Linked DNA regions of Homo sapiens. The protein of the gene in region 1 purifies or fractionates together with the protein of each later gene. This does not show direct contact. Each region holds a gene or a part of one and is shown on either strand. Other genes may lie near its edges.

Region 1 (7,285 bases):
CAGGCAGCAGTCTCTACGTCTGGTCCCAGGCTGCCTGAGAAAGAGCATGTGGGAGGCAAACCTTGCGCCCTGGCATGGTTGTTAATGTTTATATTTACCCTAGCTTGTGTGGGGTAGGAGGTTTAGGGATCAAATTCCACTCTGTGTTTAGACATTTTTTTCTTTCTTTTTTTTTTTGAGACAGTTTCACTCTGTCACCCAGGCTGGAATGCCGTGGCACAATCTCAGCTCACTGCAACCTCACCTCCCAGGTTCAAGCAATGTTCCTGCCTCAGCCTCCGGAGTAGCTGGGATTAGAGGCATGCACCACCATGCCTGGCTAATTTTTGTATTTTTAGTAGAGACCTCAAATGATCTGCCCGCCTCGCCTCCCAAAGTGTTGGGATTACAGGTGTGAGTCACTGTGCCCAGCCATGTGTTTAGACTTTTAACTAATCTCTTTTTTAGTTTCAAGCCTTATCGTCCGCCTCTGTAGACCACTCCTGTGCCTGTTTCCTGATCCTTCCAAGGGCCATTGTATTCCCTGTCTGCTGCCCCTCTTTTGGATTCTTCTGCACATTTTTTTGTTCATGCATTCATTCATTTATTGTTTGATTAATGACAGGGTCTTGCTTTGTCTCCCAGGCTGGTGTGCAGTGGTGCGACCACGGCTCACGGCAGCCTCAGCCACCCAGATGTAAGCGATCTGGTTCCCACCTCAGCCTCCCGAGTAGTAAGTAGCTGGGACCACAGGCGGTGCCCAGGTTTTTTTTTTTTTTTTTTTTTTTTTCGTTGGTAGAGACAGGGTCTCACTGTTGCCAGGACTGCTCTGAAACTCCTGGTTTCAAGTGATCCCCTTGCCTCCTCCCACTTAGGCCTTCCAAATGCTGGGATTACAAGGCATGAGTCACCTCCAGGCCTTTTTGTACTTTTAAAACTCTGCATCAGTGTATAAACAATGTTATTAAAGTTTATATGACTTCAGTTACACTACATGGATCCTTTTTCACTCACGGTTGTGAGATTTATTTCTGTTGCTACATCCAGTTCTAGTCCATTTGTGTTAAGTGCCCAGTGTGTTTATCTACTGAGGGACAGTTATGTTATTTCGTGTTCACTATTATCCCATGCTACAATAAATATCCTGTGTCTCCCAGATACTTAGAAGAGTTTCTGCAGGGCACATGTGGGAGAGTTTGTTTCTGGGTCATGAGGTGTGTTCATCTTCCATCTTGCTAGATGCTGGCAAAGGGTTCTCCAGTGTGGTTGCATCAATTTACTCGCCCAGCAGTGTGCAGAGTTCCTGTTCCTCACATTTACCAACACTAGATAGTACCAGACTTTGATTTTTGCCAATCTGATGGGTTTGAAGTGGTACCCCTGTTTTAATTTCATGACCAGAAATTCAAATTTAATCTTTGCTGTAGGACAACAGTAACCCACTTATGCCTAGTGTTCCATTATTAGAACGCTAAGCATGTGGGAGTTTTTACATCATACTGCTCAAGGTCATCGCCAAGGTCTGATGTTTTTACTCGTGCAAAAATTTAAAAAATTGCAACCTCTGGCATAAATGGGTTGAGTGACACTTTTCCTGTTTTTATTGTTGGTCAGTGATGGCATATTTGCTGGGTTTTTTTGTTTTTTTTTTGAAACGGAGTCTCACTGTGTCGCCAGGCTGGAGTGCAGTGGTGTAATCTCGGCTCACTGTAACCTCCGCCTCCCGGGTTCAAGTGATTCTCCTGCCTCAGCCCCCTGAGTAGCTGGGATTACAGGCGTGTGCCACCACGCCCAGCTAATTTTTGTATTTTTAGTAGAGACGGGATGTCACTATGTTTGTCGGGCTGGTGTTGAACTCCTGAGCTCATGATCTGCCTGTCTTGGCTTCCCTAAGTGCTGAGATTACAGGCCTGAGCCACCGCTAGCCTATTTATTTTTTATTTTAAATTTTAATTTTCTATATAGAGACGAGGTCACTATCCTGCCCAGGCTGGTCTTAATCTCCTGGGTTCAGTCAATCTTCCCACCTTGGCCTCCCGAAGTGTCAGAATTATAGATGTGAGCCACTGTGCTCAGCCCAGAACTGATGTTTTCTAAATGCTGGGTGCTGAGAAGGATGTGTGGCTGGCAGTCTTGACTGTGTTATCTGTCTTTACCAGGCCAGTAACTTCTTTGGTCTGGTCATCAAGATAATCTAGCATCACCAGCAAGCATGCATGGAGAAGGATGGGCCCAATGTGGCCAAGATGGTAACGGGACCAGTAGAGAGCCCTGTAGAAGACATCTAGATATTCTGCCCTAAGAGCCCGGAGGGCCGGGCTGTCTCATGACCCTCTGACGTGCTGACCTGGACTCTGGCAGAATGTGCACACACACAGTCACACAGCTTCCTGGCTTGCGCAAGTCCCAGGAGGGCGGTGCCAGCCACAGGCTTTTCCCATTCGAGGGTTGGAAGCGTATCATCAAACCACATCAGAGTGCTGGGGGCCACCTGCCACCCATTCCCAACCCACTCAGCCTTCCTGGTGTTTGGGACATGCTTTGCTTTGGCAGTCAAGACAGCAGAACAAATCAACTTTTAAGGCCTTGTCACTGATAGTACAATTTCCATTATTTTTCATCCAAATTAGGATACTTCTGAAAATAGAAATGATGACTCTGGGATGCAAACGTTGGCTGTCCTATGTATAAGGAGATGGCTTTTCACGCTCCCAGTGACTGAGGAAGTTTCTCCCAGATGGCGCTGCTCTGAGCCTGGTGCAGGGTAGGCACTTTCAAAAGAGTGTCTCCTTGTATCTTCCATCAGCCTTGCGAGATGGGTATCTGTTCCCAGGGCCCCAAGGGAGGAAAACAGGACCTAGCTGGATCCAAGAGCTAGGCCTTTCTTTTTTTTTTTTTTTTTGAGATGGAGTCTGACTCTGTCGCCCAGGCTGGAGTGCAGTGGCGTGATCTCGGCTCACTGCAAACTCCGCCTCCCGGGTTCACGCCATTCTCCTGCCTCAGCCTCCCGAGTAGCTGGGACTACAGGCGCCTGCCACCATGCCTGGCTATTTTTTTGTATTTTTAGTAGAAACGGGGTTTCACCGTGTTATCCAGGATGGTCTCGATCTCCTGACCTCGTGATTCGCCCACCTCAGCCTCCCAAAGTACTGGGATTACAGGCGTGAGCCAGCATGCCCGGCCCAGAGCTAGGCCTTTCTGTGGCTGGCCTTCGCGTCAGCCTCAACTACCCTGGTGTAATCTCGCCTGCGGTTGAATTAGGGAACCGCCGTGTTCTGCAAGCTGGAGAGGCAGAACACTAATGAGCAGAACACTAATCTCATTGCAATCTCAAAGGATCTCTAAAAGCTTTTATAAAGCAGGCCCAAGGTCCTTTGGTATCCGATGCAGACGTGGTGAATGCATTGGCTCTGTCAGCATCTGAGCAAGTCAGTAACAGAAATGGGGAGTAAAAGCTTTCAGAACTTTCCAGAATATTGACTAAATTGTCTTGTTTACAACCAACAACGACAACAAAAAATAACTGCTGAGGGCCTTCGTAGTGTCTGCTGTTTCAAGTGTACAGTAGTCATTTTGTCTGCAGGATGTGGGGTTGCTGTGGCTGACCTTGTACAATATTCCACTCATAGGTGTCTTCAGGCCTATGGAGAGCAGCTTGCGTGGGCTGGGCCTGCAGTACCTGGTTTGCATAGATGATTGGCAGGTGGGCAGCACGGGGAAGGACCTGTGAGTGGCCAACCTGGTTCAGGTGAGGGAGGTGGAGTGGGGCTTCTCTGCTTCCCCTGGTTCCCTGGAAGCCTCCAAGGCTGGTGAGCATCACTGCTGCCTCTGCACACCTGTGTGCTGGGTGGGTTTTCTGACAGGTTTTCAGTTGCTTCGGGGCTACAGCTGCAGGGAGCCTGCTCCATGGGACAGATGGGCCTCTGGTGCCCGTTCATCAGGGGACTGATGAGACCGAGGCCTGAGAGCCCTTTGGATTTTGTTTTTGTCCTTAATTTAATCATAAGCCAAGAATCTACTAAACACAGTTCCATTAGGGGCAAAGACGTAACACATCAGAGGCCACAGCAAGGCTGTGATTCATACTCAAAAAGGAAAGGTCTCTGGGTCACAACAGAGCATAGTTGAGGTCAGCACACTCCCACCCAGTGCAGGGCTGCTCCAGCATTGAGGTGTGTCTGGCAGGTTGAAGTAGGGGAAGATGAAACTCGCCGAAGTCTTGTTTTGTGGTTGCACTTAAGTGGTCAAAACTTCAGGAGCAACTGCCGTTATTAGCGGTGAGTGCCAAGACTAGTTTTTATAGAAGAGAAAGAAACAAAGTACTCTGGGAAGGTCTTACTGAGCCTTCACAGTCTCCCCACCTTTCCACTGTTCCCGTGCTCTTAGCCGCTCTGCTGGCCTATAAGGCACAGTCTTCATTTGTGGCTTCTGGCAAAATGTAAGCACTTGACTTTTGTTTTTGTTTTGTTTTGTTTTGTTTTTTTGAGACGGAGTTTCCCTCTTGTTGCCCAAGGTGGAGTGCAATGGTGCGATCTCAGCCCACTGCAGCCTCCACCTCCTGGGTTCAAGCAATTGTCCTGCTTCAGCCTCCCGAGTAGTTGGGATTATAGGTGCACAACCACCACGCCTGGCTAATTTTTTGTATTTTTAGTAGAAATGGGATTTCACCATGTTAGCCAGGCTGGTCTCGAACTCCTGACCTCAGGTGATCCACCTCCTTGGCCTCCCAAAGTGCTGGGATTACAGGTGTGTGCCACTGTGCCCGGCCAACTTTCAATTCTTTAGAGCTGACTATGAGAGGAGCCAGCAGTATAGCCACAGCACCAACGAATGAGGAAGAGCAAAATACTGCATGACAGCTTTGCTAAGAATTCTTTCACTTTTTTTGTCTATCAGCCAGGAGCTAGCAACTTGGCTTATTTGGAAATTTTAAGTGTACATATCCTGTCTCCTTAAATCCTTTACAGATTTAAAGTGCAGTCTACCTGAGGGCTCTGTGACCATGTAAGAAAGCTTTTTCTTTCTTTTTTTTTCTCTGAGACAGAGTGTTGCTCTGTCGCCCAGGCTGGAGTGCAGTGGTGTGATCTTGGCTCACTGCAACCTCTGCCTCCTGGGTTCAAGCAATTTTCCTGCCTCAGCTTCCTGAGTAGCTGGGACTACAGGCAGCACCACCATGCCCGGCTGAGTTTTGTATTTTTAGTAGAGACAGGGTTTCACCATGTTGGCCAGGCTGGTCTTGAACTCCTGACCTCGTGATCCGCCTGCCTCAGCCTCCCAAAGTGCTGGGATTACATGCGTGAGCCATTGTGTCCGGCCTTTTTTTTTTTTTTTTTTTTTTTTTGAGACAGAGTCTCGCTCTGTTGCCCAGGCTGGAGTGCAGTGGTGTGACCTCAGCTTACTGCAACCTCCGCTTCCTGGATTCAAGTGATTCTCCTGCCTCAGCCTCCCAAGTAGGTGGGATTACAGGCACCCACCACCGTGCCTGGCTAATTTTTGTATTTTTAGTAGAGACAGGAGTTTCACCTTGTTTAGTAGAGACAGGCTGGTCTCGAACTCCTGACCTCAGGTGATCCGCCTGCCTTGACCTCCCAAAGCGCTGGGATTACAGGCATGAGCCACTGTGCCTGGCCAGAAAGCCTTCTTTATTGAGCTTGGTGGCAGCCCAAAACTGATTCTTTAAGGGTGTCAGGACTTAACACCTCCTGTGACTTAGCCGCACCTCCTCTCCTTTGACTTTCATTCCACCTCCTTCCAGGATCGCAAGGTCCCTATTTGTCCTGGAAACGGCTTCAAGGTAGTCTAGGGTGCCGTTTGCCGGGGGAGGAAGGTGCTCTGGTTGATAGAGTCGCCTGGCCGCACACTCTTTTTGGCACATAACAACGTTCTACAGAGCCGGGGTGGAGCGTGCTTTCTCATAAGTGCTCTGCAGGTTTGGAGAGAGAGGATATGAGGAGCACCCTTTTCTGTTTTTTTTAACCCAAAGATTAGCTTGGAAAAGGGGCAGAGGGGTGCACTGGAACTCAGGTCTGCCTAAGCAGCACAGCAGACCAAGGTCTAGAGATGACATCTGCTCGCAGCTGTTCTTCCACCAGCCCGCATCCTGGAAAGGGGTCTTGTGGCACACAAGAGTTCACATCCTTCCCTCGTGAAATAAGGACTTTGTGTTCATCATCTCTTGTAAGAAGCAGAGCAGAAAGCACAGAATTAAGAAATAAAAGGGAAGTGGGTGCCTATATAAAGGGAAGTGAAAATGGGTTGCTGTCCCATGCAAAGACCCTGGAAAGCTGTTAACAGCTCAGCTTGTCACTTTCACCATCTGCATTTGTCCAGAGTGATTGAGATTTGCGTTGTTGTGGAGAGAAAGGCGCCTGTTGCACAATGGAGTGAGATTGCCACTGCTGTCAGGACCTCTGTGTTTGGCTTGACACTTTTTGAGTTCTCAGCAGTCTCGGGACCCTCAAGAGTGGAAGCATTTTTGGATGTTAAATGCTGGGGTTAATTGAAGTTAAGAGCTTGTTTTACTGGGCATGGTGGCTCACACCTATAATCCCGACACTTTGGGAGGCCAAGGCGGGCAGATCACTTGAGTCCAGGAGTTTGAGACCAGCCTGGGCAACATAGCAAAACCCCATCTCTACAAAAAATACAAAGCTGGGCGTAGTGGTGTATGCCTGTAGTCCCAGCTCCTTAGGAGGCTGAGGGGAGCAGATCTCTTGAGCCCAGGAGGCAGAGTTTGCAGTGAGCCATGATCGTGCCACTGCACTCCAGCCTGGGCAACAGAGTGAGATCCTGTCTTAAAACAAACAAAAAAAACAAACTTGTTTTCATTTAGACTCTTCCTGGCGTTGGGGACCTATTGGAATAGGTTTAGTGTGAACTGAGAGCTAGAAGTGTTAGAGGAGAGAGGGAGGGAACAGAGCCCGCTGGAGCGAGTGCCCTTCCTACCTTATCACTGCATGCCAGGCATGTGCCGGCGCTTTGGTCCTCCTCATTTCATTCTTGACTGCCACCTGAGACACGATGGTTACTAGCTCCATTTTATAGGTGGTGAAACTGAGGCTTGGGGAAGGTCAGACCCCAAGGGTGCCATTTAGTCAGTGGCAGAGCCAGATCCAAATGCAGGTCTCCTGACTCCAAGTGCAGGGCTCATTTTATCGTCCGGTTGCAGCACGCTGGCGGCCCCTTGAGCCCCAACCTGGATACCATAGGGGAGGAGCAGAGAAGCCAGGAACACCACAGCCCTGGGCCAAGGTGCGGGGCTGAAAGAACTTCCCAGCGCTCAGCCTGGGACTAGTGGAATGGGCTG
Region 2 (4,294 bases), on another chromosome or scaffold:
GATCTTCTTCAAGAGACGTCTGATGAACCTCATGCGGGATGTGGAGCGGGAGGGCCTGGACTGGGACCTCATGTGAGTGGGGGTCTGAGGATGGGGTGAAGCTGGGGCCTGGGGCAAGGCCAGGACTTAGAGGTGGGGGTGGGGGCAGGGTGGAGCTGGGACCTGGGGATGGGTCATGGCTTAGAGGCGGGGCTTGAAGGTGGGGTGGAACTGGAGCCTAGGTACATGGCCAGGGCTTAGAGGTGGGGCTGGGAGGCGGAGTGGAGCTGAATCCTACGGGCGTGGCCACAGCGCTGCAGCTGAGCCTAGAGCCTGTATGTCTGGGTGTGGTCAGGGTGGCAGGCGTGGCCAACCCTTGGAAGCGTAGCAGGAGGGCTCACGTGGTTCCTGGGCCTGAAGGCACTGTCAGGGCTGTAGCCTATAGGGAAGGGCGTTGGAAGGATCACCCAGAACTCAAGGGACCTGGCCGGAAGCCTGCAGGCTTGGTCAAGGCTTAGAGACTTGACTGAGGCCTGTGGAGGTGGATGTGGCTAAAATTTGACCGGGCAGCCTGTGGGCGTGGCTGAAGAGCATGGGGGTGTGGTCAGAGCTGGAGGTGTGGCCGAAGAGTGTGGGGGCGTGGCCAGGGCGCCTGGTCTTAGACAAGCCCCTGGATGGGAGTGCCACCAACATGTTTCCAGCACTGGAGCCGTCCTTCTCTTCTGTAAGTGGGCTGGTTTGTCCTCTCCCTTCCTCCATCTCTTTTTTCCCTTCCATGTGCAGTGCCCTAATCTGCATTCTGGGAACACTGCCCCATGTGAATAGTAACTGCACCCCTCCATTCCTGACTGCCCCCCCATCAGGGCACCTCGCCCACCTCCACCCCCACTGTCCTCTGAACTCAGAGCAGCTTCAGCCTCAGAGAACGTCTGCGTGATCCTGCTCTCCCCAGCTCCAGATCCTCCATGGCTCCCTCACGCCCTTTGGAAAAACTCACTCTTCTCCCCCATGACCGCCAGACCCCTGGGCTCCTGCATTCACTCCATCCAGTCACAGAGCTCTGCAAACATGCTGAGCCTGCTCCCATCCCAGGACCTGACGGGGTAACTAGATCCCTGGCTTTCTGGGCAAGCTCCCTCCGGAGGGCGGGAGGAGAGTGACAGGCCCGATCTTGCACCCCAGCTATGTGGGCCGGAAGCGGATGCAGGTGGAGCACCCCGAGAAGGCTGTGCCTCGCGTGAGGAACCTGGTGGAGGCCGACTATTCCTACTGGACCCTGGCCTACGTGATCTCCCTGCAAGGCGCCCGCAAACTGCTGGCTGCTGAGCCGCTCTCCAAGATGCTGCCTGTGGACGAGTTCCTGCCCGTCATGTTCGACAAACACCCAGTGTGAGAGGGGCAGGCGGCTGCTGGGCTGGGGTTTCACGGTGGGTCTGTCCTGGGAGAATGGGGATGTGAGACTCACGGCCTCCGAGAAGATGTCTCTTCTTTTGCCTACTTCTCCCTCCGTTTGCCCCCTCGCAGATCTGTCTCCATTTGTATCCCCTGCACACTTACGTTTTAATCTGTCCCCGCTGACTTCTTCACCCCCAATTTTTCCTCCAGCTGTCCCGTCCCCTGAAGCCATTGCTGCCCCTCACTCCCCTCCTCCTCCCCCCAGGTCCGAGTACAAGGCCCACTTCTCCCTCCGCAACCTGCATGCCTTCTCTGTGGAGCCGCTGCTCATCTACCCCACACACTACACAGGAGACGATGGCTATGTGAGTGACACCGAGACCTCAGTCGTATGGAACAATGAGCACGTCAAGACCGACTGGGACCGCGCCAAGTCCCAGAAGATGCGGGAGCAGCAGGCACTGAGCCGTGAGGCCAAGAACTCGGACGTGCTCCAGTCCCCACTGGACAGTGCTGCCCGGGATGAACTCTGAGGGGTAGCAGCCAGAAAGCCAAAGCAGCCATCGGTGGCCCAGGCTCCACGTGCTTACTGAGGACATCAGGTCCACCTCTGGACCCCTTGGCAGGCCACAGAGGGCTCTCGTGTGGGGTGGTGTCCAGCCAGCTCTTGCTAAGCAATCACGTGCACACAGGCAGCATTAATGGAGTGCCTACTGCATGCCAGCAACAGGGCTTGGCCCTGGGGAATTGGGAGGAACCAAGCCCTCTTCATCTGTTCATGTGCCCAGCATTTATTAAGCACCTGCTGTATGCAAGGTTCCCATGTTACGGCAGTGAATGAGGCATAATTGTTCCCTCCATCAGCGATTGATTCAGTCATCAAGCAGTTACTGATCAGATTAAGAATCAGGCACTAGTGATACACATTCATTTTTAAAATTCATTCAAGGATTTATTGAGTGCCTACTGTGTGTTGGGTGCCATTCCAGGCTCTGGGATTTTTTTTTTTTTTTTTTTAAGAGTAGAGTCTGTCTCTGTCACCCAGGCTGGAGTGCAGTGGTGTGACGGCTCACTGCAGCCTGCGCCTCCCAGCGTCCAGCAATTCTTGTTTCTCGGCCTCCCAAGTAGCTGGGACTATAGGTGCGTGCCATCACATCTGGCTAGTTTTTGTATTTTTAGTAGAGACGGGGTTTCACCATGTTGGCCAGGCTGGTCTCGAACTCCTGACCTCAAGTGATCTGCCCGCCTTGGCCACCCAAAGTGCTAGGGTTACAGGCATGAGCCACTGTGCCCAGCCCAGGCTCTGGGAATATTGAGATAAATAAGATGCTTCTATCCATTTATTCAAGCACATATTGGTCACCTACTGTGTGCCTGGCACTCATGTCACAAAGATAAGTTCCTGATTCGGTACACTTACTGAGCACCTGCTGTGTGCAGGGAGCTGAGCTATGGGATGGGAATGGGAGTAAACAAGGTACTTTTTACTTTTTTCTTTTTTTCCTCACTGCTAGACGGTGTGGGAACTTCTCACTCATTGGCTTCTTTCCCACACACCTGAAGAGCACTGACTGTGTGCCGGGCACTAGTGATACAAAAGAGTGTGACAGTTGTTCAGTCTGCATTTTCGATCATGGGCTACATGCCGAGTGCTGGGGCACAGAGATGAACAAGATCGGTTCCTTCACTTCTTCATGCCACAAGTGTTTATTGAGCACCTGTGTGCCAGGCCTCACAGACTCCCAGTTGGGTTGAAGAATGGTTGACTGAGTTTGATTCTTCCTGTACCCTCGGTCGTCTGAGCTGTGTGCAGACAACATCCCCCCACCACCCAAGAGGGAGGGTAGCTCTTCCGCCACCAGGGGCAAGCACAGGTCCTGGTGGCCCCACGCCACATGTTAGCCCCCCTGGAGGGGGCGCCAGTTGGAGACGGGGGCTGGGTGTCCCTGGCCCACTCCCGGTCCCCTGTGCTTTACCTCCTTGCCCTTGTGTCTCAGGTGTGGTCCCTGCCTGCTTGATGAAGTTGCTCTGTTCAAGCCTTTGGTGGGATCATGTGTTTGGGGGCTTTTAGGGGACCCAGCTGCACTGGGGCACTGCCCGTGGCCTGGGTAGGACATTTCCCAGCAAGGGCTGGAGGAGTTGCCGTGCCTTCAGCCTGAATCGAATGTCAGAACCAGCCAGCGGTGCTTCACCCTCTTGGGGATAACTTGCTTAGTTTTTTAATAAATGTTCCTGGTTGGTTTTCACAGCAGTTTGTGGGATTTTGCTCGGCACCAAAACACTGCCCACGTTCCCCACCCCTGGATGGCCGACAAGATTTGGGAGGAAACCAGGGCAGGTGCAGTAGGGAAGCTGCCCAGTGGGGCCTGGCATGGTGGCTCATGCCTGTAATCCCGGTGCTTTGGGAGGCTAAGGTGGGCGGATCACTTGAGGTCAGGAATTCAAGACCAGCCTGGCCAACATGGTGAAACCCCCTCTCTATTAAAAGTACAAAAATTAGCCTAGTGTAGTGGGGCGGGGTGGCGGGGGGGGGGTACCTGTAATCCTCGCTACTTGGGAGGCTGAGGCAGGAGAATCGCTTGAACCTGGGAGGTGGAGGTTGCAGTGACCCAAGATTGAGCCACTGCCCTCCAGCCTGGGCGGCAGAGCAAGACACAATCAAACCAAAAAAAAAAAAAAAAAGCTGGCCAGTGGAGCTACTGTGGGGTGAGGGTGTGGTAAGAGCCCTGTGTCCCCTCATGCCATAAAACTTCCCCCAAACAGGCGGGGGACCGACAGCTCTGTCTTGAGTCAACTTCAGGATCCTTCCACATGACTTCGAATAAAGAGGGGCTGTCGTGCTTTGAGTCCCCCTAAAACAGACCTCAACATGAGGATTAGGGCTGGGCATGGTGGTTCACGCCTGTAATCCCAGCACTTT

Evidence for each region.
Region 2: the proteins of CTSB (region 1) and COLGALT1 purify together in Homo sapiens (affinity purification with mass spectrometry; 2 studies listed by BioGRID, with this or other methods). This does not show direct contact.

Annotation. Positions count from the first base shown.
Region 1 is NC_000008.11:11,857,803-11,865,087, reverse strand, and holds part of CTSB (cathepsin B isoform 1 preproprotein), read left to right. Parts: intron 1-604; exon of another isoform or gene 605-712; intron 713-2,609; exon of another isoform or gene 2,610-2,743; intron 2,744-3,608; exon of another isoform or gene 3,609-3,727; intron 3,728-7,147; exon of another isoform or gene 7,148-7,230; intron 7,231-7,285. UniProt on the Homo sapiens protein: Thiol protease which is believed to participate in intracellular degradation and turnover of proteins. Cleaves matrix extracellular phosphoglycoprotein MEPE. Involved in the solubilization of cross-linked TG/thyroglobulin in the thyroid follicle lumen.
Region 2 is NC_000019.10:17,579,538-17,583,831, forward strand, and holds the end of COLGALT1 (procollagen galactosyltransferase 1 precursor), read left to right. Parts: coding exon 1-72; intron 73-1,161; coding exon 1,162-1,368; intron 1,369-1,639; coding exon 1,640-1,907; 3' UTR 1,908-3,620; downstream 3,621-4,294. UniProt on the Homo sapiens protein: Beta-galactosyltransferase that transfers beta-galactose to hydroxylysine residues of type I collagen. By acting on collagen glycosylation, facilitates the formation of collagen triple helix. Also involved in the biosynthesis of collagen type IV.